Linked DNA regions of Homo sapiens. The protein of the gene in region 4 purifies or fractionates together with the protein of the main gene of each other region. This does not show direct contact. Each region holds a gene or a part of one and is shown on either strand. Other genes may lie near its edges. The genes, in order: SIRT2, ATG7, FRYL and KIAA0930.

Evidence for each region.
Region 1: the proteins of KIAA0930 (region 4) and SIRT2 purify together in Homo sapiens (affinity purification with mass spectrometry; 2 studies listed by BioGRID and IntAct, with this or other methods). This does not show direct contact.
Region 2: the proteins of KIAA0930 (region 4) and ATG7 purify together in Homo sapiens (affinity purification with mass spectrometry; 4 studies listed by BioGRID and IntAct, with this or other methods). This does not show direct contact.
Region 3: the proteins of KIAA0930 (region 4) and FRYL purify together in Homo sapiens (affinity purification with mass spectrometry; 3 studies listed by BioGRID and IntAct, with this or other methods). This does not show direct contact.

What each region holds. Positions count from the first base shown.
Region 1 is NC_000019.10:38,882,592-38,889,628, forward strand, and holds part of SIRT2 (NAD-dependent protein deacetylase sirtuin-2), read right to left. Parts: intron 6,565-7,037; coding exon 6,496-6,564; intron 1,166-6,495; coding exon 1,036-1,165; intron 1-1,035. UniProt on the Homo sapiens protein: NAD-dependent protein deacetylase, which deacetylates internal lysines on histone and alpha-tubulin as well as many other proteins such as key transcription factors.
Region 2 is NC_000003.12:11,555,373-11,558,178, forward strand, and holds the end of ATG7 (ubiquitin-like modifier-activating enzyme ATG7), read left to right. Parts: 3' UTR 1-2,293; downstream 2,294-2,806. UniProt on the Homo sapiens protein: E1-like activating enzyme involved in the 2 ubiquitin-like systems required for cytoplasm to vacuole transport (Cvt) and autophagy.
Region 3 is NC_000004.12:48,560,247-48,567,283, forward strand, and holds part of FRYL (protein furry homolog-like), read right to left. Parts: coding exon 7,002-7,037; intron 5,446-7,001; coding exon 5,285-5,445; intron 4,798-5,284; coding exon 4,687-4,797; intron 3,857-4,686; coding exon 3,702-3,856; intron 2,743-3,701; coding exon 2,643-2,742; intron 1,391-2,642; coding exon 1,222-1,390; intron 1-1,221. UniProt on the Homo sapiens protein: Plays a key role in maintaining the integrity of polarized cell extensions during morphogenesis, regulates the actin cytoskeleton and plays a key role in patterning sensory neuron dendritic fields by promoting avoidance between homologous dendrites as well as by limiting dendritic branching.
Region 4 is NC_000022.11:45,237,871-45,245,385, reverse strand, and holds the start of KIAA0930 (uncharacterized protein KIAA0930), read left to right. Parts: upstream 1-4,491; 5' UTR 4,492-4,682; coding exon 4,683-4,746; intron 4,747-7,515.

The DNA.
Region 1 (7,037 bases), on a different chromosome or scaffold from region 4:
CACCACTGCACTCCAGCCTGGGTGACAGAGCAAGACTCCATCTCAAAAAAAAAAAAAAGAAAGAAAGAAAGCATTTCTGTCACTTGCAACCCACTGAATTCTAAGTCATTTGCTCAACTGTCCATTCATTCATTCAGCACACATTTATAAAGCATTGTTTCAATGTCAGTAGTCGGTAATTTTCTTTAAAATATTTCTGCATGGACAGCATGACACCGTGGGTGCTGCCTGTGACGCTGCTGTCAATGACACATAATGGGGGTAATGTGAATTGTACACTGCCCCCAGCTGCTTGCAGTTGGGCTATTCAGGAATCCTCAGCCCAGGGGCACTCAGCTGGCATTTTATCAGAACAGCCACACTCCAGAGGCCCTTCTGCAAATGCTGCAGCTGTCCTTATCTCACAGGGACACCAGAGGCTTTGTTAAATCAGCATAAAGAATGTCAGAAATGGCTTTCCATGAGTGGAATAAGTGACTTCTTGTTTTTTTTTTTTTTTTTTTTTTGAGACAGAGTTTTGCTCTTGTTGCCCAAGCTGGAGTGCAATGGTGCGAACTCAGCTCACTGCAGCCTCCGCCTCCCAGGTTCAAGCGATTCTCCTGCCTCAGCCTCCTGAGTAGCTGGGATTACAGGCGCATGCCACCACACCAGGCTAATTTTTTTTTTTTTGTATTTCTAGTAGAAACGGGGTTTCACCATGTTAGCCAGGCTGGTCTTGAACTCCTGACCTCAGGTGATCTGCCCGCCTTGGCCTCCCAAAGTGCTAGGATTACAGGTGTGAGCCACTGCTCCTGGCCTACTATCATATATTAAAAACAGCCAAAGACAGGAAATCAGGCAGTTGGGCTGCAGTGAGCCATGATCACCCACTGAACTCCCCGCGTGGGCGACAGAGTGAGACTCTGTCTCAAAAACAAACAAACAAAACAAAAAAACCCCAAAGAATTGAGCAGGACAGAATGGGTGCCCACTGCATGGAGACACTGCTCCTGGTGCTGAGAGGAGGCCTGCCCTCAGGATGCCCTCCAGCCTCACCTTTCATCCAGCTTAGCGGGTATTCGTGCCGGCAGCTGGCGCTGACGCAGTGTGATGTGTAGAAGGTGCCGTGCGCCTCCACCAAGTCCTCCTGTTCCAGCCCGGCTATTCGCTCCAGGGTATCTATGTTCTAGAGGGAGAGATGGAGGGAAGAGGGGTGAGGAGTGAGCCACCCCTTGTAGGCCAGAAGGCACAGTAGGGAGTTGAGGGCCACGAGGAGCAGTGAGGTGGTGGGGACAGGTGGAGAAGGGAGGGAGGAGAAGCAAGTGGCAGGGTTTATCTGAAGACTCTTCTGTTCATCCCAATGGTGCCACTTAAAGGGTGACAGTCAAGGCTGCTTAAAGGCAGGGGCCAGGCTGGGCATGGCGGCTCACGCCTATAATCCCAGCACTTTGGGAGGCTGAGGTGGGAGGATCACTTGAGGCCAGGAGTTCAAGACCTGCCTGAGCAACATATCAAGACGCTTGTCTCTACAAAAAATTAAAAAAAAAAAAAAAAAAAAAGGGGCCCAAACCTAAATATCTATGAGGCCAGGCCCACAGCCACTCCACAGCCTGTGTGGCTTTTATTCTGCAAATTCAGGCCATTTGCTTTCATTTTTCAGAAAAAAAATGTTGTTTTATTAGAGCCAGATGCTTTATTTCCACCTGTCATTAATTGCTGAAATTAACATACATTTACAATGTCTCTGTTATTAATGGAGCCCCCTCAGATGTGGCATCCTTGTGCAGTGCGCACCCTGCACAGCTGCATGTGGCAGCTCTAGGCAAGCATTAACATAAATGAATCAGGAGGGCTTACTAGGTGTGGTTTGTTTGTTTGTTTGTTTGTTTGTTTTTTGAGATGGAGTCTTGCTCTGTCACCCAGGCTGGAGTGCAGTGGCACAATCTCGGCTCACTGCAACCTCTGACTCCCAGGTTCAAGAGATTTTCCTGCCTCAGTCTCCCAAGTAGCTGGGATTACAGGCACGCACCACCATGACTGGCTAATTTTTGTATTTTTAGTAGAGATGGGGTTTCACCATGTTGGCTAGGCTGGTCTCGAACTCTGGACCTCGTGATTTGCTTGCCTCGGCCTCCCAAAGTGCTGGGATTATAGACATGAGCCACTGTGCCTAGCCATGTTTTTTTATGTATTTGAGACAAGGTCTCACTCTGTCGCCCAGGCTATAGTGCAGTGGTACAATCATAGCTCACTGCAGCCTCCAACTCCTGGGCTCAAGCAATCCTCCCACCTCAGCCTCCACATCTGGCTGATTTTTAAAATTTTCTGTAGAGATGGGGTCTCACTATGTTGCCCAGGCTGGTCAGCGAGCCTTCTGCCTCAGCCTCCCAATGTGCTGGGATTACAGTGTGAGTCATCATGCCTGGCCCTTCCTTGGCTTTAATCACTATCTTCCCCTTTAGTAGCCAGGGTCCTTTCTTACTATGGCCTGTTTCATAGATGGCATATTCACCTGTGTTCTTTTCTTTTTTTGGAGGCAGGGTCTTGCTCTGTCACTCAGGCTGGAGTGTAGTGGTCTGATCACAGCTCACTGTAGCCTTCACCTCCTGGGCTCAAGCCATCCTCCCACCTCAGCCCACTGAGTAGCTGGGACTACAGGCAAATGCCACCATGCCCGGCTAATTTTTTATCTTTTTAATTATTTTTGTAGAGATGGGGGGTGGGGTGGTCTCCCTATTTGCCCGGGCTGGTCTTGAACTCCTGGGCTCAAGTGATCCTCCCACTTCAGCCTCCCAAAGCGTTGGGATTACAGGCGTGAGACACCATGCCCAGCCACTGTTTTCTTTTCTTTTCTTTTCTTTTTTTTTTTTTTCAGATGGAGTTTCACTCTTGTTGCCCAGGCTGGAGTACAATGGCGCTATCTCGGCTCACTGCAACCACTGCCTCCTGAGTTCAAGCAATTCTCCCTGCCTCCGCCTCTCAAGTAGCTGAGATTACAGGCACCCGCCACCATGCGTGGCTATTTTTTTTTTTTTTTTTGAGACGGAGTCTTGCTCTGTTGCCAGGCTGGAGTGCAGTGGCGCAATCTTGGCTCACTGCAAGCTCCGCCTCCCAGGTTCAAGTGATTCTCCTGCCTCAGCCTTCCAGGTAGCTGGGAACACAGGCACGCGCCACCATGCCTAGCTAATTTTTGTATTTTTAGTAGAGACGGGGTTTCACCATGTTGGTCAGGATGGTCTCGATCTCCTGACCTCGTGATCTGCCCACCTCAGCCTCCCAAAGTGCTGGGATTACAGGTGTGAGCCACTGCGCCCGGCCACTGTTTTCTTTTAAGACAGTGAGACTTTCCATATTAAACAGGTGGGAATGTTCTTTTCTGCACAGACATTTGTGCGCGCTCATTTTTCTTAAAACAACCACCCCCTTTGGAGCAGCTGTTGTTTGCCTGTGAGGAATGCCGCTAAAACAGGTGCTGACAGAGGACACTGGCAGAGGTTACGCAGAGATGGCTCGCATGTGTGGCCCAGGGCCAAACTGACAGCGTTTCCCAGGGACTCCAGAAACAACGGGAAGGGTTTGTTTCCCTTCAAGGGCAGAAAGAATGCTCTAACTGCCTTCTGGGCTCCCTACCAGCAACCACCTTATCTCCAAAGCCTACAGACAAGAGTCACTGTCACTGTTCCCACACGCCCTGTAACTTTCCTCCCTTGCCCACTATTCTAAATCTTGGTTTTGCCTTTGGTACTTGACTCAGTCTACCCACTGACTCCCTCACATGTGAGTGAGCAATTTGCAAATAACTGAACAGTAAGCAAATAACTGAACAGCGTGGAAAAGAACCACCGAAATACCTCTGCGTTCTGTTATTCTTTGACAACATGGTTTTTTTTTTTTTTTCTTTTGACAGGATTTTGCTCTACTGGTCCAGGCTGGAGTACAGTAGCTTGATCATAGCTCACTGTAGCCTTGAAATCCTGGGCTCAAGCAATCCTCCTCTCTCAAGCTCCCAAGTAGCTGGGACTACAGGTGTGCACTACCATGCCTGGCTAATTTTTTTTTTTTTTTTTTTGAGATGGAGTCTTGCTCTGTTGCCCAGGTTGGAGTGCAATGGCGGAATCTTGGCTCACTGCAACCTCTGCCTCCCAGGTTTAAGTGATTCTCCTGCCTCAGCATCCTGAGTAGCTGGGATTACAGGCACGCACCACCACACCCAGCTAATTTTTGTATTTTTAGTAGAGACAGGGTTTCACCATGTTGGCCAGGCTGGTCTTAAACTCCTGACGTTGACTTTGGCCTCCCAAAGTGCTGGGATTACAGACGTGAGCCACCGCGCCTGGCCTTTATATAATAGTTTGTATGTGATGTGTCATTTTTTTTCTTTTTTTGAGACGGAGTCTCTCTCTGTCACCCAGGCTGGAGTGCAGTGGGGCAATCTCAGCTCAGGGCAACCTCCACCTCCCAGGTTCAAGCAACTCTCATGCCTCAGCCTCCTGAGTAACTAGGACTACAGGCATGTGCCACCACGCCTGGCTAATTTTTGTATTTTTCGTAGAGATGGGGTTTACAACAGCACCCCCTTTCCCGAACACATACACCGTTTCTGACTCCCCTTCCAGCTTAACTGTGTTCCAGGGACCCATGACCATCTTATATGCTCAGTATATGGTGTCTCCATCTTGTCCATCATCTCCCTCCCTGCTGTAGGGAATCAACTCAGTGAACATTTACTTTGACAGAAGCTGACAAACAAGGGCCAGCGGGGTCTTGGGGTGAGTGTCATGACATCAACCACAAAAAGCACTTGGCTTCAAGCAAGCTGTTATCATATCTGAGCCACGTCCTGGAATAATGGTGACTCTCTGGGCAGAAGGTTTATTCTGAGCCCGGAGTCTCCCTATGTTGCCCAGGCTGGTCTTGAACTCATGGGCTCAAGCGATCTCCCACTTTGGCCTCCCAAAGTGTGGGGATCACAGGACTCCTCCTCTTGGAAGAAGGAGGCCTCCGCTGCCCTCTGCCTCCTACCAGCCCCAGGTGGGAACACCTCGCCCACCTGAGAAATCTGAACTTAAAGCCAGTTGTTCCTCCCCCTGGCGGTAGCTTTTGGGGCTGCAGGTGCCAAACTGCAGGTACAGGGAGAAAACACTAGAACACTTATTTATTTTCAATGTTACCACTCTTTTTTGTTTGTTTGTTTGTTTTTTTAAATTGAGATGGAGTCTTGCTCTGTCACCCAGGCTGGAGTGCAGTGGCACAATCTTGACTCACTACAACCTCTGCCTCCCAGGTTCAAGCGATTCTCCTGCCTCAGCCTCCCGAGTAGCTGGGGTTACAGGCACCACCACACCTGGCTAATTTTTGTATTTTTAGTAGAGACCAGATTTCATGATGTTGGACAGGCTGGTCTTGAACTCCTGACCTCGTGATCTGCCCACCTCGGTGTCCCAAAGTGCTGGGATTACAGGCGTGAGCCACCGCGCCCGGCCACCTGTTTTATAATTCGGGGTTCTGAGGTGTGATCTAGAGCTTGAATTAATACTGTTGTAGTGCATCATGTCATTTCTATACATATTCATAAAACAGGTAGAGGCAGCAACATTTTGTTGTTGTTTTGATTTGTTTTTTGTTTCTTTGAAACCAGGTCTCCCAGGCTACAGTACAGTGGCACCATCATAGCTCACTGCAGTCTTGACTTCCTGAACTCAAGCAATCCCCCTACCTCAGCCTCCTGAGTAGCTGGGGCTACAGGCACACGCCACCCTGCCCAGCTAATTTTTGTATTTCTTGTAGAGACAGGGTCTCCCTATGTTGCCCAGGCGGGTCCCAAACGCCTGGGCTCGAGCTATCTCTCGCTTTGGCCTCCCAAAGTGCTGGGATTACAGGTGTGAGCCACTGTGCCCAGCCCATCAAGATTTTTTTACTGTTAGGGGTGTGAGACTCTCCAAACCAGAAGCCAACAATGTGAGCCATCCTTGCTTGAATGCCCCAGGGAGAGGCCCTTGGCTAAGCACCTGACGTGTACGAGACATGTTTATAATTGGGCAAAGCACAAAAAACTATAAAAAGGTGCCCCTTCCTTAAGGCACAACATCTACTTGTTGGACACGTGTCATAGTGTATGGATTTTGTTAGATGAAGTCACTTTGGAAACTCGCTCATAACCAATGTGAAATCTGGGGTGCCTATAGTGCACACAGAGTCCCTTCAGCCATAGGCTCCTTCCACATCACACATGGGATGGCCCTGAGAGGAGGTCACTGCCACCGCACTGCAGACCTGAGAGGGCAGACCTGAGAGGGCAAACCTTTTCTGGCCCCTGTTTGACGGAAGGGGAAACTGAGGCAGAGAAGACGTGACTCACGGCAGGTCATGCAGCAAGGAGGCAGTAGGCCAAGCCCTGGCCCCGCATTGCTGGAGTCCCCGCCTGAGCTCTTGGGCACGCAGCTCTGCTCCTCTGCTGAGGACACCATGCCCGTTCCACCCGCCCATCCTCCTCCCAGGATGCTCGCATCCGCCTACCTGCGTGTAGCAGCGCAGGAGTAGCCCCTTGTCCTTCAGCAGGCGCATGAAGTAGTGACAGATGGTTGGCTGCAGGGAAGAGCGACAGCACTGCTGACGACTGCAGGGAACAGCCACAGGCCACTGCCGCATGCCAGGAACTGTTCTAGGCACTGTGACTGTTTTACCCCCAGGGAACCGTCACAGCAGCCGCGTCGGGGAGAGACCACTGCTATCCCCAGATCACAGATGAGGAAACTGAAGGACAGGGAAGGGGATTGTGTTGCCAAAGTCACACGGTGGGTAAGCTGCAGAGCTGAGATTCACACCCAGGCAGCCCGGCTGCAGGGTCCCGGGCTCTCAACGGCATCATTAGTCAGCTAAGCCTCGCAGCAGCCCTCTTCAGACAGTACCATTAGCTTCACTTCACAGGAGGCAAATCGGAGGCTCAAGGTCGTAAGATGAAGACACGAGGAACCAGGACTTGAACCGAGGCAGTCTGGGCCCAGCACCCATGTACTTAATGGCTACATAATATTTGTCTGCAGGGCCTTGGCGGGGCT
Region 2 (2,806 bases), on a different chromosome or scaffold from region 4:
GGGTACGAGACTAAAGGGCCCACATGACCCAGTGACGCCAGATTTCCACCAAGGACTGAGTGAGCTGCTCAGACATGGCTTTCTGCCTCCCAGCCTGTCCTCCACTGTGGGCATAGCATCTGTGCCTGCCTGCCTGCTTGAGGGAGAGGAGTTTCTGCTGCTGCCTTGAGCTGGGGGGAAGAGCCCAGGGGCAGATCCTGGCAGCTGCCTGGATGGGGCTCCTCCCTGCCCTTATGAGCAGGCCAGGCCCAGAAAGGCCGAGCCTGGGCTGCCTTCCTGCCCCAGCCGAGGGAGGGGTCAGACGGCTCTACCATGGGTAACTCAGGCAAGAGCTGGTTTTCCTCTTTATTCTGGGTGTGTGCAGCTGTGAGGCCCCAACCCAGGAGAGGCCATGGCCTAGGTACCTGTGACCACCCTGCCCCCGTGTAGAGGGCATCGTCTTTCCTGCTATTTTATTCTTTCAGCTTTTGTCTTAGGCCCAGAATCAAAGTGAAAATTGAGTCGAGCTGACCCTTACAACAGTAGGATTTAGTAGGGTAGATTTCAAATGAGGCTTCGCTTCTCCCAAAGTAGCCAGTCCAAGTTCCAGTGGCTGTCGTTCAGCTCATGGGAGCTTCATGGGGACACAGCCGGCACAGGTGCAGGGCCCGAGTCCGCCCACCCAGCCTGGCGCTGAAACTGCACACGTACACTATGTGGTTTAAGAGCACTTTATTATTGTTCTTAAGGCTACTTTTAAGTACAAAAAAAGATGGCCTGCCAAACCTTTTTTTTTCTTCTTCCAGGAAAAACAGGCCACAGAGAATGGTATATTACAGATTTACACACATGAAGAGAAGGTCAGAGCGCACTGCAGGCAGCGCGGCTCTGGGAAGAACTTCACGGAGCCCCTTCTTAGAGCAGGGAGGGGGCTTTCTCAGTGAAATGTTTGGTTTTCTGCTGCCTCCTCTGCCCCAGGCCCCCCTCCAGGGTACTGCCTATCCCAGATAGGTCAGTGCACCAGGGACCCGGCCGCCAGCACCGCCGACCCCTCCCAGAGTGACGCCCTTGTTCACTGACAAAGAGACCTGTCCCAGGAGTGTCCTCCACCGAGCCGGTCAGCTGTGGGTGGTTTTCCTGTTACGACGCTCAGTAGCCTGTAGCAATAACAAACTCGTGGCTATGAATGCAGATGCAGTGTTCTCATAGAATAACTGTTCCTGCACTTTTACAGACAAATCTACGACAAAAAAAAAGATCAACTTTTTTTTTCCGAACAACAAAAAAAATGAATGATTACAATAGGAAAGGGAAAAATTAAATAGCTACATATCATTAACAAATTAATGTTCTTCAAAAAATACCTACAAATTTCTCTGTACATTCTTTACGCACAGCGTAACGATGGTCTCAAAATCACCCATATAGAAAAGTGTTCTCAACGATTTTTCCTACAGAAAATATAGGGGCCTGAATGCCAAAGCTTGGAAGCCCAGTACAGTGGGAGTGAAATGTGTGCGGGGCAAGGAGAAGGGCTTTTCTTTCCTCCACTTTTCAAAGGCCTGCAGCCACTCTGTGACTACAAGAGCCAGTCCTCCGACCTTTTCACCCAGTGCCAATTTCCAAAATTCAACAGCTAAAAACTGTAAAACCGGGGGTCATACGGTGTGCAGAGTCCACAAAGCCTTGCAGGTGAGGTGACCACGCCCACGTCACCTGGTCAGGTGCCATCGTCGTGAGCCTCTGGTGGGCCAGGTGGGACACAGCACACCCCAGGGGGAGGGGATAGAAACGCTCATTGACCAAAAAGGAGCAGCTGTGACCTCCACAGCTGTGTCTGTCATGCTTGCTTCATCTAATTTCTAGTTAGTAGCTATTAATATAGCAAATAATAAATGCAGTAATAACAGTATAAAGTCAGAGGAATGTATACTGCCTTGGCCCCAGCGTACGAGGAAGCGTATAAAACACCATATCACAGATTGTCTGTCAGTAATCTGCTGTTCAGCCAAGAGAGTTCAAAGGGAGCAGTTTCTGCATGTAGGGAAGTTGGAAGACACAAACCCCACCTCCCCTGGGAGCTTGTAACAAAGCAGACAGGGATGCAAAAATAAATGATGTCAGCCTGCAGCCAAACTCCAGCATCCCACACCGCAGCTGACCCACTGCTCATCGCGAGGGCCTGCCAGGAGCTGGCCTCCCGCACTACTTGTGAGTAAAGTGAATATCAAATACCAATCTTAGAGTACAACTGTACCAGCAGTAAGTATATCTAGGACTGTAACTGACAAAAATAAACTAATTCTGAAAAGAAGATAGTAAGTATTAAGGTTTTTGTTTACTGTCTATATAATTAATAGAAACCAGCTATTTTTTCTCCATTAAAACATGCATCACGTTTAAAGCACTATGGAATCCTCCAACCTCAGCTCTAGTCTAACAAACTGCAGTGTTCAGAGAAGATAAAATGCCCGTGATTGGTAGAGTCTGCAGTCCAGTTGCAAGCACCTGAAATCTAGAGAGAGAAAGACCTATAACCTGTATGAGACTTCCCCTTCCAAAGCTGTATTGTCTACATTAAAAAAAACAAAAACAGTAACAACAACAAACACACAAATGGTCAGAAATGTCATCCTTAAACCCTTTGTTTTTCAGCAGTTTGCCCTCAGAGTTCTGGCATAACACATAAAGTTGTCAGGCAACTTTAGTCCTCCTCCAATAGTGCAAATCAGACACGACAGTTCTCTTCAAGTATACACACGCACACACATGGACCGAACCAAACACGCCGTGGAAGCTGAGCCACACACACCCCGGTCTCAAGAAG
Region 3 (7,037 bases), on a different chromosome or scaffold from region 4:
CTGTGCAGTAAAATTCTGAATGAATATTGTGTTTGTCTTGCCTTAGAAACAGTGAAAGTGAAAATGTAGGTTAGCTATGGAATTTGTCAGGTTGAGAGGCTGTTTTGGTTTAGAATGAACTATCTTAAGCAAAGGAGTTAAAATTAGCTGATGCTAAGGACAAGAGTGTCTGAAGAGAGAACTGAAGGAAGAATGACAAGGTGGTGGGGGTGTGGGCATGGTGGACACCTGTACCAGCACACATCCTAGGCGATGACATGACATTCTAAACAGTTACATGATCTCTTGAGACCCAGCTGGACTCCTCTACTTTCTGTGCAAAAGCCTCTAGCAGCAGCTCAGCAGCCACAAAATCTGTGTTCACGGCGGCCGCTATTTTGTGTTGATGATCACTCATATTCATCTTGGAAGGGCTGTCACGGATGCGGGGGTTGGGAAAAAGGAAGAGGCATTGCTACCAACTACCAGGGCAAACCAAACAGGTCAACTGCTTTCAAGAACTAAATGTTATGAGAATTTAAGTTGTTGTTATTGCTTTTTTCTCCCACTCAGGTCAATTAGGGATGGGAAATAAACTATTTCTATTGCTAAAATAGGTGCTGTGCAAAGATCCCAAGCCAGCTAAGTCCACTATCTCTTGAGCCCAAATGAAATAAAGGACCCACAGCAGAACTCTGCAATCTCCCAGATCCCAGTGTTGGAGCATGGCCAGTACTTACACTGGAACAAGATCTTGATGTAGGCGACAAGCAACATGTGGGAGACTAGAAAGAGTTTTGCTCGAGGCACTGTACCACCTGCTCCTATGGTTAGGGGTTTCGCTCACGGAAAACTGCCTATAACTTTATCCCTGCCTATTTTTATTATTAAACATATGCCAATACACAAAATACAATGTATTCAAGAAGTCCTATGTCTACTAAGAAATACTTTTAAGTCACATGTGAAAAGTCGTCCCTCTTGTATTTTTTTCTTTTTGATGGAGTAGGGAGCGAAGGGAAGGTCAGGTATAAAACCCTATAAGGACGCCGTTGATAGAAAAACCTAAATATTGTGACTGATCAGAATTAAGAGTTCTTATTGAAGAAAAAAATATTTCCTATGTAAAGACATGTCTGGTTTTGATTTAACCTGTAATTTAATAAATTTATAATTTTCTAAAAATTGTTTCTGAAGAAATGATTGACAAATAGAAACTACTAACCAGTTCATTGATCATACCTGAGAATATGGCGAGAGTTAGCTCAGGATACGCCCTTGCTAGTTCCTCGGACAACTGATAATATGAAACAGAATAGAGATGTGGTAGAGGAGACAGCTGGCTGAGTACTCCATCTGTTCTCTGAACCTCCAATTTGTGAGCATAGCGAAACATCTTCGGTTCCAGAATCTATAGGAATGTGATTCCATCAACTTAGGTTAAGATTTTATGGGTTCTCTAAAGTTTAACTATAATTTTATAATTTTTAAAAAAACTCTTCTCCCCAGCTGAGTGGAGTGGCTTATGCCTGTAATCTCAATACTTTGGAAGGCAGAGGTGGGAGGATCACTTGAGGCCAGGAGTTCCAGACTAGCCTGGCCAACATAGCAGGACCTCATCTCTACAAAAAAATTAAAAAATTAGCCAGATGTGGTGGTGTGTGCCTGTGGTCCCAGCTACTCAGGAGGCTGAGGGTGGAGGGTCACTTGAGCTCAGGAGGTAGAGGCAGCAGTGAGCCATGACTGTGCCACTGTACTCTAGCCTGGGTGACAGAGTGAGACCCTATCTCAAAAACAAAATGAAACAAAACAAACAAAAACTCTTTCTCACTAAAAGAATTTACATTCCTCGTATTTAATGCCAATGATCCAGGTTAGTAACACAGTCTGAAAATAACTCCAGCAACTTAATATACGATTACTTGAAAAAGATTTACCACTTTTCTCGCACAAAAATATGGTAGTACAATATATGCATAAGTGAAAAAAAAAAACCCTTCAAGGAGGACCTTTCGACATTACACTATTTAAAGAGCTGTACTGCTGAACTTTCCTCTTAATTAACAAAGGCATTAGGGTATAATTCCTAAGATGGATCTACTGGCATCAGAACCACTTCAGAGCCTTTGGAAAAAGCACCTACTTGAATCCTATTCTTAGCCCTTGGTTAAGATGGAAGAATCTTGCCCTATTATGAATTAGTTAAGTATTGCATACTAACAATATATCCGTGTTTGGTAAGTTAACTTTCTAAGTTATTTCTCCTCAACCTAATAAAGAAAATTTACATGAGAATATGATAAAAAGAGCTAATTATTTTTCACATGGCTCTCCAAAAAAATTTGGACACACATTGTTCTCATCTGCTGAACAGAAATACTTACATGGACACATATTTATAAGTACCTTCATACACATACACACACATTATCATAAATAATCCTTCTACAATACACTTAGGAATAGTCTGCATTACTTATAAATTTAAATATCTATATTATCTTTGTCTTATACTTCTAATAATAATTAGGCCTTGATACCATAACTTCTTTACTATAAATAAAGCTAAATACTATTATCAGTATGCTTTAATAGCAAGACTAAATTATTGGGCTTCATTAAATCCTGAGTAAAAAAATATTTAAATTCACATGTTTACAAACCTGTAAAAGTTGCATAGCAACTTCATAGATACTTCTAGAAGAATCAGCTGCTTTAAACAGTATCAGATTTAGAAGCATCACTGTGTCACATTGATAATCCCTAGGAATAAATTTTACATATTAAGTAAATAACAATGTTTAGAGGCTTTTGCACCATTTAATAAATATGATATGCAAAGGGCAAGGCTTATAGGCATCTATCTTCTAAGCCTATGAGGAGACTTGGTTTTTTCAAGGCAATAGGTACAACAACAGATGCATGGTGATAATTGTCCTTATTTTGGTTAAATTCCATTAGAGCACACGTGTTCAACCTTTTGGCTTCCCTGGGCCATATCAGAAGAATTGTCTTGTGTCACACATAAAATACACTAAAAACAGCTGATGAACTAAAAAAAAAAAAAAAATCCATGCATAATTTTTGTAATATCCACCACCACAGATAAGCAAAAAGGTCCTCACATTCAAAGGGTTAGACACGGCTGCATTTGAGCTTAAGAAAAGAAAATACAGTCAACCCTCTGTGGATCAAAAATATGAGGGAAAGGCCAAGCGCGGCAGGTCATGCCTGAAATCCCAGCACTTTGGGAAGCCAAAGTGAGAGGCCAGGAGTTCAAGACCATCCTGGGCAACATACGTAGTGAGACCTCGTCGCTACAAAGAATTTAAAAATTAGCCAGGCATGGTAGTGGGAGCCTACAGTCCTGGCTACTCGGGAGGTTGAGGTGGGAGGATCACTTGAGCCTAGGAGTTTGAGGTTACAGTGAACTATGATCATGCCACTGCACTCTAGCCTGGGTGACAGCGAGACCATGTCTAAAAAAAAAAAAAAAGGAGTATACGGGAGGATTTGCATAGAGTAAATACAAATACTACAGCATTTTATATAGAAGGCTAGAGCATCCATGGATTTTGGGATCTGAGAGGGGTCCTGGAACCAATCCCCCACAGATACTGAAGGACAACTAAACTGGTGTCTTCCTATTTTTGAATTCAAAAGAAAAACTTTTCTTTAAGAAAACAGAACAAAATGAAACAAAAAACCTGTATCTAAAGTACCTGTTCTGGAAAACATTAGCAATGGCTTTAAAGCAGCCGGCCGCCACCCTCCCGGAGCCCGTGTAGCAGCGGTCCACAGCCCAGTACATCAGGTTGCTCTGATCAGGGTTCAGCTCCAGTAACAACGTAACTGCTTCACAGCCCAGCTGGTGAACCTAGGTAAAGGTTGTGAAATTGCCCGAGAGAGAACGTTATATATTTTTTGTCTATTTCCCTATAGTTCTTACTAAAGTAATATAGTGCATATATTCATTGTAATTAATAGAAAAATTCCATCTCCTTTTGTTCACCTCCCTCTCATTTTATTCAGCCAGCAGAAAAAACCACACAGATGAACTGAATTTGGCCTCTCGCTTTTTACGCGAGCCTCTCTAGTATGATTTTGTCTTCCAACAGAGCCCTGAAGGCAGTTAATGAATATGAATAGTGATTAGGTGCTTTCAGAAAAATGAGTCATTAACCTCTCCAATTATTTTTATCAAGCTTTATTCTTGTTTTTGATAACCCAATAGAAAAACTGTTCTGAGGGGAAAAAATGTAAGTCCTATTTTAAATTGTGAAGTCTGTATATGTACAATATGAGAGTAAGGAAGGCAGAGTGTGGAGGGCAAGGAGGAATGATTAAATGGAAAGTGGTTAAAAAAACGAAATGAAACATAGCAAATAACATATTTTTCCCATGCAGCTCAATATGTTCTATGCTGGTATTTTATTTATTGACTTAGAACCCTGTTGAGAGACACATACCACTGTATTAATCCTATAATATAAAAAGGGAAATGAAAATTATTCAAATTAATGATACATAAGAATTGGAACGTTTTTACATTATGGGATCCTATTTAACTTTATATAATATGCTTTTTGCATATGATCCTAACCTATCTTATTTTTTTAAAAGACTTGTTTTTAGTGCAACATACATTAACTGCAAATAATACAATGACAACTTATTATGAACCTTTAAGGAAATTGTCATAATTACCTTTTTGTCCAGAGAATCCAAAATGTTATCCAACCATTTGTACAAATAGCCATCTGATGAAAGTCCTACATTATCTGCAACAGGGCCACAACACAGTACAGCAGACATAGCCTTCAAATAATAATATTAGAATTACATTTAACAAATTTAAGAGGTTAAATGTTGGTTGCTTAATGAGAAGAGGCAAAATACTTATCTAGTCACAATACTTTAATCTTTTTTCTTTACAAATTATTTTTTAAAACTGAGAAATTTATTATGAGTAAGTAAATATGATACCAAATTAGACATGGAGTTTGAACAGTACTGGAAGGGAAGATAAAAAGACCAAGAAAAAGTAATTAAGTAAGGGAAAAAAGGCATTTCTTTCAAGTAATCCTAAGTTCTTTAAGATAATGGTGATCAAATTTGAGTAGATTCTGGAACTGTTTTTCATTGTATTTTATGTATTTAAATATAACTTATGGTATAAGTTTTGAATATGGCAGAAAAACATTTTAATACTCTCAGATCCTCTTTTTAATACTAGTGACTGAGAGACTTAAAAATACTTAACTCTGCTCTTAAGAAAAAAGAAATCAGGTTTCTAAGTAAATACCTTTAACGCACAGTATTGATGTCTATTAATTTGCATATTTCTATCACTGTATCTGTCCAAGGGCGTAAACATGATGCTAAAAGGACCTGCCCAGTGACTGAACAGCATAAATAGACTGTGACGAAGGCTCTGTTGAGGAAAAATACTTCTTCTCTGGTGCACTGTGAATAAAAAAAGATAGAAAACATTTATTTCCATTTCTTTTTGCTTTAACTTTTATACCAACATGTTATTGAATGTGTAATAGTGTAAAAAAGAAAGCAGAAGTTTTCATTTTAAACTATCAAAAACCTCCGCGGTAGCAGGGATCATTTATATATATGCAAATCACAGAAACAAAGTTGCAGTCTGTGTCACCCTGTCCCAGCATTACATGACATAGAGCATCTCTGCAAGCAGAAATTCCATGGCAGGCTCAATGGCACATGAAGGCTGGCACAGAGGTGGGGCCAGGAGTCCATTTCTCCCTGGGCTATCACTGGCTATATGGTAAGATTGGCCAAGATTTTAACACAGACACACCTCTGTATCTTGGTTCACTGGTAAGTAAGGGCTTTGGACGAGATACGTGTTTTCAAACTTTCTATTTTTTTTTTTCAGCAGGAAAGCTGCCTTTTCCTGCTAAAGGAAGCTTACATGTAATCTCAGTATATAAAACAGATAAAAGGGCAGTTCAGGCCTAGTGTCCAAACACATTCTGCTGCTTTCTGCGGATGGCATCAGAGAACCTCAGGGCTTTGAGAAACACCAAAGTTTGAAAACCACTGGTTTAAATGATCTCCAAGGATTTTTTTCCCCCATTTTGAAATTCTACTATATAATTTCTCTACATCTATCCTTCTTGAAGAAACTCAGCAGTATCACAATAAACCAATGTGGAAGTTGTAAAAAAGTGTTTAGTAATAGACTAAACCACATCTTTATATTAGTGAGCTTCAGATCAGAAAATTTCGAAAAAAATATGCTCTTTTCCTTTGACAGTGTCATTTTCCTTTCAAAGATGAAAACAAGGCTCCTACAGTTGAAATTGACATATGTAATTAAGTGCTTAATGACCCTGTTATAAAATACAACCCATGTTCTTTAGGTATCCACTGTCTGTATATACTATTCAAAATAACAATGTGACTTTAATTTTTCAAAGAGAAAAAGAAACACTTATAGTGTATGCCAAAGGCTAGTCACATTACTTCTTACAGTTGTAAATAATTTAACTTTTAAAAATGTAATTGTGTATATTAATCTTCCTAGTATCTAAACCAGTATCTGTCGATATAGACCCTACTCAATAATTGGAACATATCTGGTAAATCAGTAACACGGTATCCTTGTTACATTTTGTATTTATGGCCTATACTCTTTTCCCATTATTCAAAAGTATCTTCTTAATTTTATTCTCAATTATCATGAGACACTGCACTCTGCTTATTGCATCTAAAACAAGGCTATCCTAAAGAGCTTATTCTATTGATTTCTCCAGGTTTTTGTGTCAGTATCCTGATTATTACTGAAATTCTATGCTGGGTTGCTTTTTTATTTCTAATCAGTGACAATAATTCAAAGGGAAAACAAACTCCAGCCATCCAGGTTATGCTGACATATTTTTCCAGTATGTTCATACGTTACTTTATCAACTTAGATTATTAAACCTCAAGGAAAGAAAAAATATGACGGTTCCTTAATACTCAATAATGCTTTAAGAAACTGAAAATAATACCTGGAACATTCTGAATAATATTCGCCACTAAGGCAC
Region 4 (7,515 bases):
CGGGCAGGAACTCTGAAAAATGAAGCAAGACTGACCTATTAAAGCAATTGGATTGTGGTTGTTTTTTCTTTCTGCTAAACTTTGCTTGATTGTTGTTCTAAGTGTTTGCAAAATAAACCTCAGGGATAGAAGCGCTTAGGTGGAGAGCTGACACAATGCCCACATCTCAGGCTTGCCCACGTATTGGTATCACTGCTGTAATAATTACTACAACGTTATTGCCTTAACACATTTCCAGTTCTGTAGGTTAGAAGTTCAACTGAGGTCTTGCTGAGCTAAAGTCAAGGTGCAGGCAGGGCTGTGTCATATCTGGGGGCAACTGTAGGAGAATCTGTTTCCTTGCCTCTTCCAGCTTCCGGAAGCTGCCTGTATGCCTTGTCTTGTGGCCCCTTCCTCCCTCTTCAGTGCCAGCAACATTGCATTTACCTGACCATTCTTGTGTTGTCACATCTCTTTTTGACCACAGCCAGGAAATGTTCCCCGATTTTAAGAATTTATGTGATGAGATTGGGCCCACTTGGATAACCCAGGATAGTCTCCCTATCTCAGTGTCTGTACTCTTAGGCCCCATGTGGCAGCTCATGCCTGTAATCCCGGCACTTTGGGAGCCCGAGGTGGGCAGATCACTTGAGGTCGGGAGTTCGAGACCAGCCTGGCCAACATGGTGAAACCCTGTCTCTACCAAAAAATACAAAAAATAGCCGGGTGTGGTGGCACACACCCTTAGTCCCAGCTACTCAGGAGGTTGAGGTGGGAGGATGGATTGAGCTGGGGAGGTGGAGGTTGCAGTGAGCTAAGATCGTGCCACTGCACTCCAGCCTGGGCAACTGAGTGAGACCCTGTCTCGAAAACAAACAAACAAAAAATCACGTCAGCAAAGTCCATTTTGCCAGGTAAGGCAACATATTCACAGGAATTAGCACAGGAATTAGGGTGTGGGCATTTTGGGGCCATTATTCTGCCTATATACTTTCAATTCTATTTTATATTCTGAATATTTGTATACAGAAAAGTGCATAAATAATTACAAAATGCCAGCTTTATATATATATTACATACATATATTACATATATAACATATATATTATATATATTACATATATATATGTTATATATACATATATATATATTTTTTTTTTGAGACCAGGTCTCACTCTGTTGCCTAGGCTGGAGTGCAGCAGTGTGATCGCGGCTCACTGCAGCCTTGACTTCCCCGCCTCAAGCAATCCTCCCACCTCAGCCTCCTGAGTAGCTGTGACCACAGACGTGTGTCATCACACCTGGCTAATTTTTTTTTTTTTGTAAAGATGAGGTCTTGCTATGTTGGCCAGGCTGGTCTCAAACTCCTGGGCCTAAGCCAGCCTCCTGCCTGCCTTGGCCTCCCAAAGTGCTGTGGTTACAGGTTTGAACCACAGCACACAGCCTTTTGATTTTCTAACTTTTTTTTTTTTTTGAGATGGAGTCTCGCTCTGTTGCCCAGGTTGGAGTGTAGTGGCACAATCTCGGCTCACTGCAACCTCTGCCTCCCAGGTTCGAGCGATTCTCCTGCGTCAGCCTCCAGAATAGCTGGGACTACAGGTGTGTGCCATTACGCCCAGCTAATTTTTGTATTTTTAGTAGAGATGGGGTTTCGCCAGGTTGGCCAGGCTGGTCTCGAACTCCCGACCTCAGGTGATCTGCCCGCCTTGGCCCCCCAAAGTGCTGGGATTACAGGCGTGAGCCACCATGCCCAGCTGTGCAGCCTTTTAATTTTCATAAACTGACCACACCCGTGTAACCAGCCCCCAGATCAAGAAACAGAACATGCTCTGTAGCCCCAGAAGTCCTGCTCCTGCCCTCTTCCCATGCACAGTGTGATTTAGCATTTGTTGACATTAGAAAATTCTGTGTATATGTGAGGTCAGGAGTTCGAGACCAGCCTGACCAACATGGAGAAACCCCATCTCCATGAAATTAGCCGGGCGTGGTGGCACATGCCTGTAATCCCAGCTACTTGGGAGGCTGAGGCAAGAGAATTGCTTGAACCTGGGAGGTGGAGGTTGCGGTGAGGCGAGATCGCGACATTGTACTCCAGCCTGGGCAACAAGAGCAAAACTCCGCCTCAAAAAAAAAAAAAAAAAAAAAGAAAGAAAGAAAATTCTGTGTATAGGTAATACCTGGAGTATTATTGAAATACAAAGGAGAGAGCCCAAGCGATGTTTGTTTACTCATTCATTCAACAGATATTTTTCTGGCACCAGTCCTGGGCTGGGTGCCACGGGAAGTGGGATGAATTGGTTCAATGCTGGTCATATGACACAGAATACACGGAGGCAACTGTGTGCAGGAGGGTGGGGTGGGGAAAGGGGGTTTGTGAAGCAAATAAGAACACAATGCATTGGCCAAGCGTAACCAGGCAATGTGGGTCCCAAAGGCAACTACAGTTGCGGAGCAGAAAGGATTTCAGGCCAAGGGAACACTGTGGGCAAACGCATGGCAGTGGGAACAGGCAGGGGGTGCTGTGGGGTTTGGGGAGGCAAAGAGGGATGTGACTATTGGACTTGACAGCCTTGGAGCACTCGCTCATGCTGTCTGATCCACCATCCCCAGTTCTCACGTCCACCAGCCCAAACCCCAGCTCTCCAGACGCAGAACCAGAGGCCTCAGCCCTCATGCCAGTGTCCTCACTTTACAGACAGGGATGCAGGCCCACTGGAGAAGAGAAATACACGTGAGGCTGGTCGCGCACTTCCTTCATTCCCTCACTGCTCACCTTTCTACAGAGCCCTCCTGGGCCTGGCACTGGGGACACAGAGGGGTCAGATGTGGCTCTGCTCTGAAGAGTTCAGGGGCCAGTGGCACAAAACTGGGGCAGAGGCCTGAAGCAGGATCCAGATCCCATCTCCCTTCTGGGGCTCTGCCCAACCCCACGGCTCCTTCCTGCTGTGCCTCCCAGGAAGACCCCTGCGTCCCCATCAGACCTCTCCATCATTCTTCGTTTATGCAGCCTACATTTTTTTTTCTTTTCTTTTCTTTTTTTTTGGGGGGGGACAGGGTCTTGCTCTGTCTCCCAGCTTGGAGTGCAGTGGCGGGATCTCGGCTCACTGCAGCCTCCGCCTCCCAGGTTCAAGCAATTCTCCTGCCTCAGCCTCCAGAGTAGCTGGGATTACAAATGTGTGCTACCATGCCCGGCTAATTTTTGTATTTTTAGTAGAGATGGGGTTTCACCATTTTAGCCAGGCTGTTCTGGAACTCCTAACCTCAGGCAATCCACCTACCTCGGCCTCCCAAAGTGTTGGGATTACAGGCATGAGCCACTGTGCCCAGCCTGCAGCCCATATCTATTTATTGGGCATCTAATGTGTGCCAGGCAATGTTCTGGGTACTGAGACAACAGCTGTGTAGTAGACAGGCCCCTCCCTCGGTAGAGAAGAGAACAAGTGAACCCATAGGTATCCAATGTGTCGGGAGGAGGTAAGTGTCACCCTGTGAAGGAGAAACAGACTAAGGGAAGAGAGAGGGAGGGAAGGCGGTCAGGGGAGTTTCTTTGAGGATGTGACACTCGGGACACAAAGGAAGCAAGTTACACAGGAATGGGGAGAAGAGGACTCCAGACAGGGGAAAGGGGGACCTTGATGGGTCTGGGGTCCACACACAGGCTGTGAATGCAGGGAGTGATGTAGATTTAGCTTTGGAGAGACCTGGAAATCAATGCTGGTCTCTCCATCTCCCCCTGTTCTTGGAAATGGACCACCAGGCGTGAGGTTTGGGGAGGCCACTGGCTGCTTCTCCGGTGTCTTCCTGTATCAGCCACAACTAGCACACGGAGGGATGCTGGCCAGACCTGGCTTCATCAGGATGACACGCCCAGCTAACCTCATACCTCCCCCTTCATCAACACTCCCCCATGTTGGGGAGGCAAGGCAGGGAAAGGTCCCCCATGGTGCAGCTGAGGAAATGGAGGCGCAACACTCTGCACTGTGCCAGGTGCAGAGGAGGGGGGCCGGAAGGGCTTTGCCACGGTGTCCCCCAGGAGACCACCTTCTGGGAGCAGGTGACCTCTTGAGGGGTTCTGCGGAGGAAGTTCCCAGAAGTCAGCCGAGGGGACTTGGTGGAGGTGGCAACGCACAGGGCGGGTGACAAAGTACACATCCCGTGGGGTAGCAGCGGGGGAGGGGAGAGGTGCCCTGAAGGGGCGGCGGGAGGGGCTCAGAGGCGTGATCCCGTTGGTGGGGCGTTTAGGACCTTGGGTGGAGGCGGGACCCCGCGAGCGGTTTGAGGGAGGCTGTCCTGGGCATCCGAAGATTGGCGGAGACTGGCCGTTTGGAAGTGGGCGGGGCAAGGGAGGTCAGGGGGCGGGGCCAGGGAGCCGGGGTGGGTCCGGGCCGTTCAGAGGCGGGGCGGGAGGGGACAGGGGCGGGGCCGGGGCGGGGAAGGGGCGGGGCCGGACCGGGGCCGGGCCGGGCCGGGGCGGGGCGAGCGGAGCCGGGGGCGCGCGGGCGGCGGCGGCGCGGAGGTGCGCTCGCCGGTGCTGTGTTTGGCGGGTGGTGGCGGCGGCGGCGGCGACGGCGACGCGCACAGAGGCGGACTGTGGCTTCCTTGGTGCTCGCGGCGGGCTGCGGGCCGGGCCGCCCGCCCTCCCCGCCGCCGCCGCCCCCGAGCCTGCGGGCGGCGCCGAGGCCGAGGAGCGCTCGCTGCAGCACATGCTGCGTGCCATAGCGGAGGAGCGCGGCCGTCTTAGCCTGCGCCGCGAGGTCTGCGGCCTCGGTGAGTGGGACCCGGGGGCGAGGCCGGGCCGGGAGAGGTGAGCGTCTCCGGGGCCGCCTCTGCGCGTCCGTGTTTCTGTGCGCCCCGCGCATCTCTGTCTCTGCGCGGGTGTCGTGGTCTCTGGGTCTGCCTGGGTACCCTGTCTTCCTCCATGGCCCCCCCCCCACCGTCCCTGCATCTGGGTCTGTCTCTGCTTTCCGTCCGACGAGCGCCCCGCACCCCTGTGCCCGGGTCTCATTCGGCGTCTCCCCCTGTCAGTCCGTCCGGGTGTCTGTCTCATCTTCCTCCTTCTTCTTCGTGTCTCTGCGGGTCTTCTTCCTTCTCCAGGAAGCCCGCCCCGGGCCCTCAGCACCGCGGTAGGGAGTGTGGGCGTGGGATCTGGGTACACCCTTAGCCCAGCGCGGCAGGGTCGGGCCCTCGTTGGGCTCTGGGTGGACCTCGCTGCGAGCGTGCCCTGGCCACTGTCTCCTGCTACCCGAAGCCTTTGTCTTTCCGCACCCACCGGCCCCTCTCATCCCTTAGCTGTATCCAGGGACCTGTTGGGCAATGGCCCCCCGAACCCGCCCGCTTGGCTGAGGGGCAGGGCCTGCTGCCTCTCGGTGTGATTCTGGGCTTTAAGTCATGGATCTGCTGGGGGGCGTGGGATGGGGGTGCCTCGTATTGTTTGGAAGGGCCTGGGACTGCAGGTGTGGGTGGGGTCTCCCAGCCAGTGAGGTAATCCATTACTGATGGATCATGCCCAGACTGAAGCCCAGGAGAAGCCCCCTCTTTTGTCGTCTCAGGTTCGTCATTTTCTCCATGGAAAAGACCCCTCCCTCCTCCGTGCAGGGAATGACTTCATACCACATTGTCAGCCACCCCCCACCCCACCCCCAGGCTAGGCTGGGGATTTCTGAGGGGGTGACAGCATTGCTGAGTACGGAATGTCAGCCTTCCAGATTCACCCCTTCATTCACCGTTGGGGAAACTGAGTCCCAGAGAACAAGTGCATCCCCCTAAGGTCACACAGCTGCAGGGACATGGCAGTCCCAGGCATTCAGGGCCCCTCAGCAGGCCACACCCTGGAGGCTGGAGTGGAGAGAGGAAGTAAATTTGAATCCCTTTTGTAGGAGGCAGGCTTAGCATGGGAGGCTTCCCAGTGAGCAGGCCCCAGCCTAGCCTGCCCAGGCGAGCCTTTCCTCATGCAGGGGTGGGGTGGGGGGTGCTTATGAAGTGAAATGGACAAGAACTTCAATGGTTGACAAGGTTTCAATGGTTTCTTTCTGAAAAGGTGTCAAGATTTACTTTTGAGCAGAAGTTGGAGCGTGCTTATTCATTCATTCTGCAAACATTCATTGAGCACCTACTGTGTGCCACCGTGGCAGGCCCACCTGTCAGCTGGCACCGAATATCTGAGCTGGGATGCATCTGAAGGACCATCTGCTGCAGGTCACTTGGCCCTGTTTGCTCAGCAGCTTCAAGCAGTCCCTCCCCACTCCCCTGTCCACACACACCTATTGTCCTCTGACCACCTTTACCTGTGAGCACCTTCTCTCCTCTTCTAGGCAGCCCCTCCCGCAAGGAGGCTGCAGGGCCATTCCCAGAAGAACAGTGAACAGTGAAAATGGCACCTAGCATTTACTGAGCACTTACTATGTGCCGGGTGCTTTACTCATGCTGCAAATTTAATCCTGACACAATGCTGACTTTGCCAGGGAGCAGTATTATCTCCATATCAGCGATGAAGAGCCTGAGGGTGAGAGAGAGAGAGAGAGAGAGAGAGAGCCTGCCCAGGGACAACCAATGAGGAAGCAGCATAGCAGCATAGCCGGGACTGACCCTCTGCCAGCCTGACCTCAGAGCCTGCCCTCCACTCCCTGAATATCCCCAGCCAGGTCTTTATGTGCCTACGATACTCACGCTGTTTCCTTGTCTCTTCTCCAGGCCTCCCGCACGTGCCAGGTCTCCCCTCTTCCCCTGCTGCTGAACTCAGTCCCTGCAGGGCTCTGAAGCAGAGAAAACCTGCTGTTTTCTCTGCCCGGAAAGCCGCCCCTACTCATGTGCCCCACAAGCATCTCTAAGTTTTCCTTTAAGTCTCAGCTCCAGTGTTGCCTCTCCGGGAACTCTTTCCAGCTCCCAGGCACACAGTCCTGTTCTGCCTGTGTTCTCTTTGTGCCAGGCACATGTTTGTTGGGACAATCAGGATGATTGTGGCCTTGTCATGGTCTGTGTGCTGTCTCCCCAGTTAGCAGGTGAGGCCTTCAAAGGCATTACCCAGTCTGATTCATCTTGGTGCCCAGCATGGGGCACATACGGAGCAGGTGCCCAGTAAACATTTAGTGAACAAGTGAGAAAATTATTATCTGGACTGGCAGATGAAGGGCGTGGAGGGCCACGGAGATGGGAATCTTAGCTTCTTAGAAGGCCTCATTTTTGGCCGGGCGTGGTGGCTCATGCCTGTAATCCCAACCCTTTGGGAGGCTGAGGCGGGCGGATCATGAGGTCAGGAGTTTGAGACCAGCCTGGCTAACATGAGGAAACCCCCGTCTCTACTAAAAATACAAAAAAAAAAATTAGCCAGGCGTGGTGGCGGGCGCCTATAGTCGCAGCTACTCAGGAGGCTGAGACAAGAGAATGGTGTGAACCCGGGAGGCGGAGGTTGCAGTGAGCCGAGATCACGCCACTGCACTCCAGCCTGGGCTACAGAGTGAGACTCTGTCTCAAAAAAAAAAAAAAGGGCTCATTTTTCAGATGAGAGATTTGATGTTCAGCGAGGGGTGAGCTTACTAG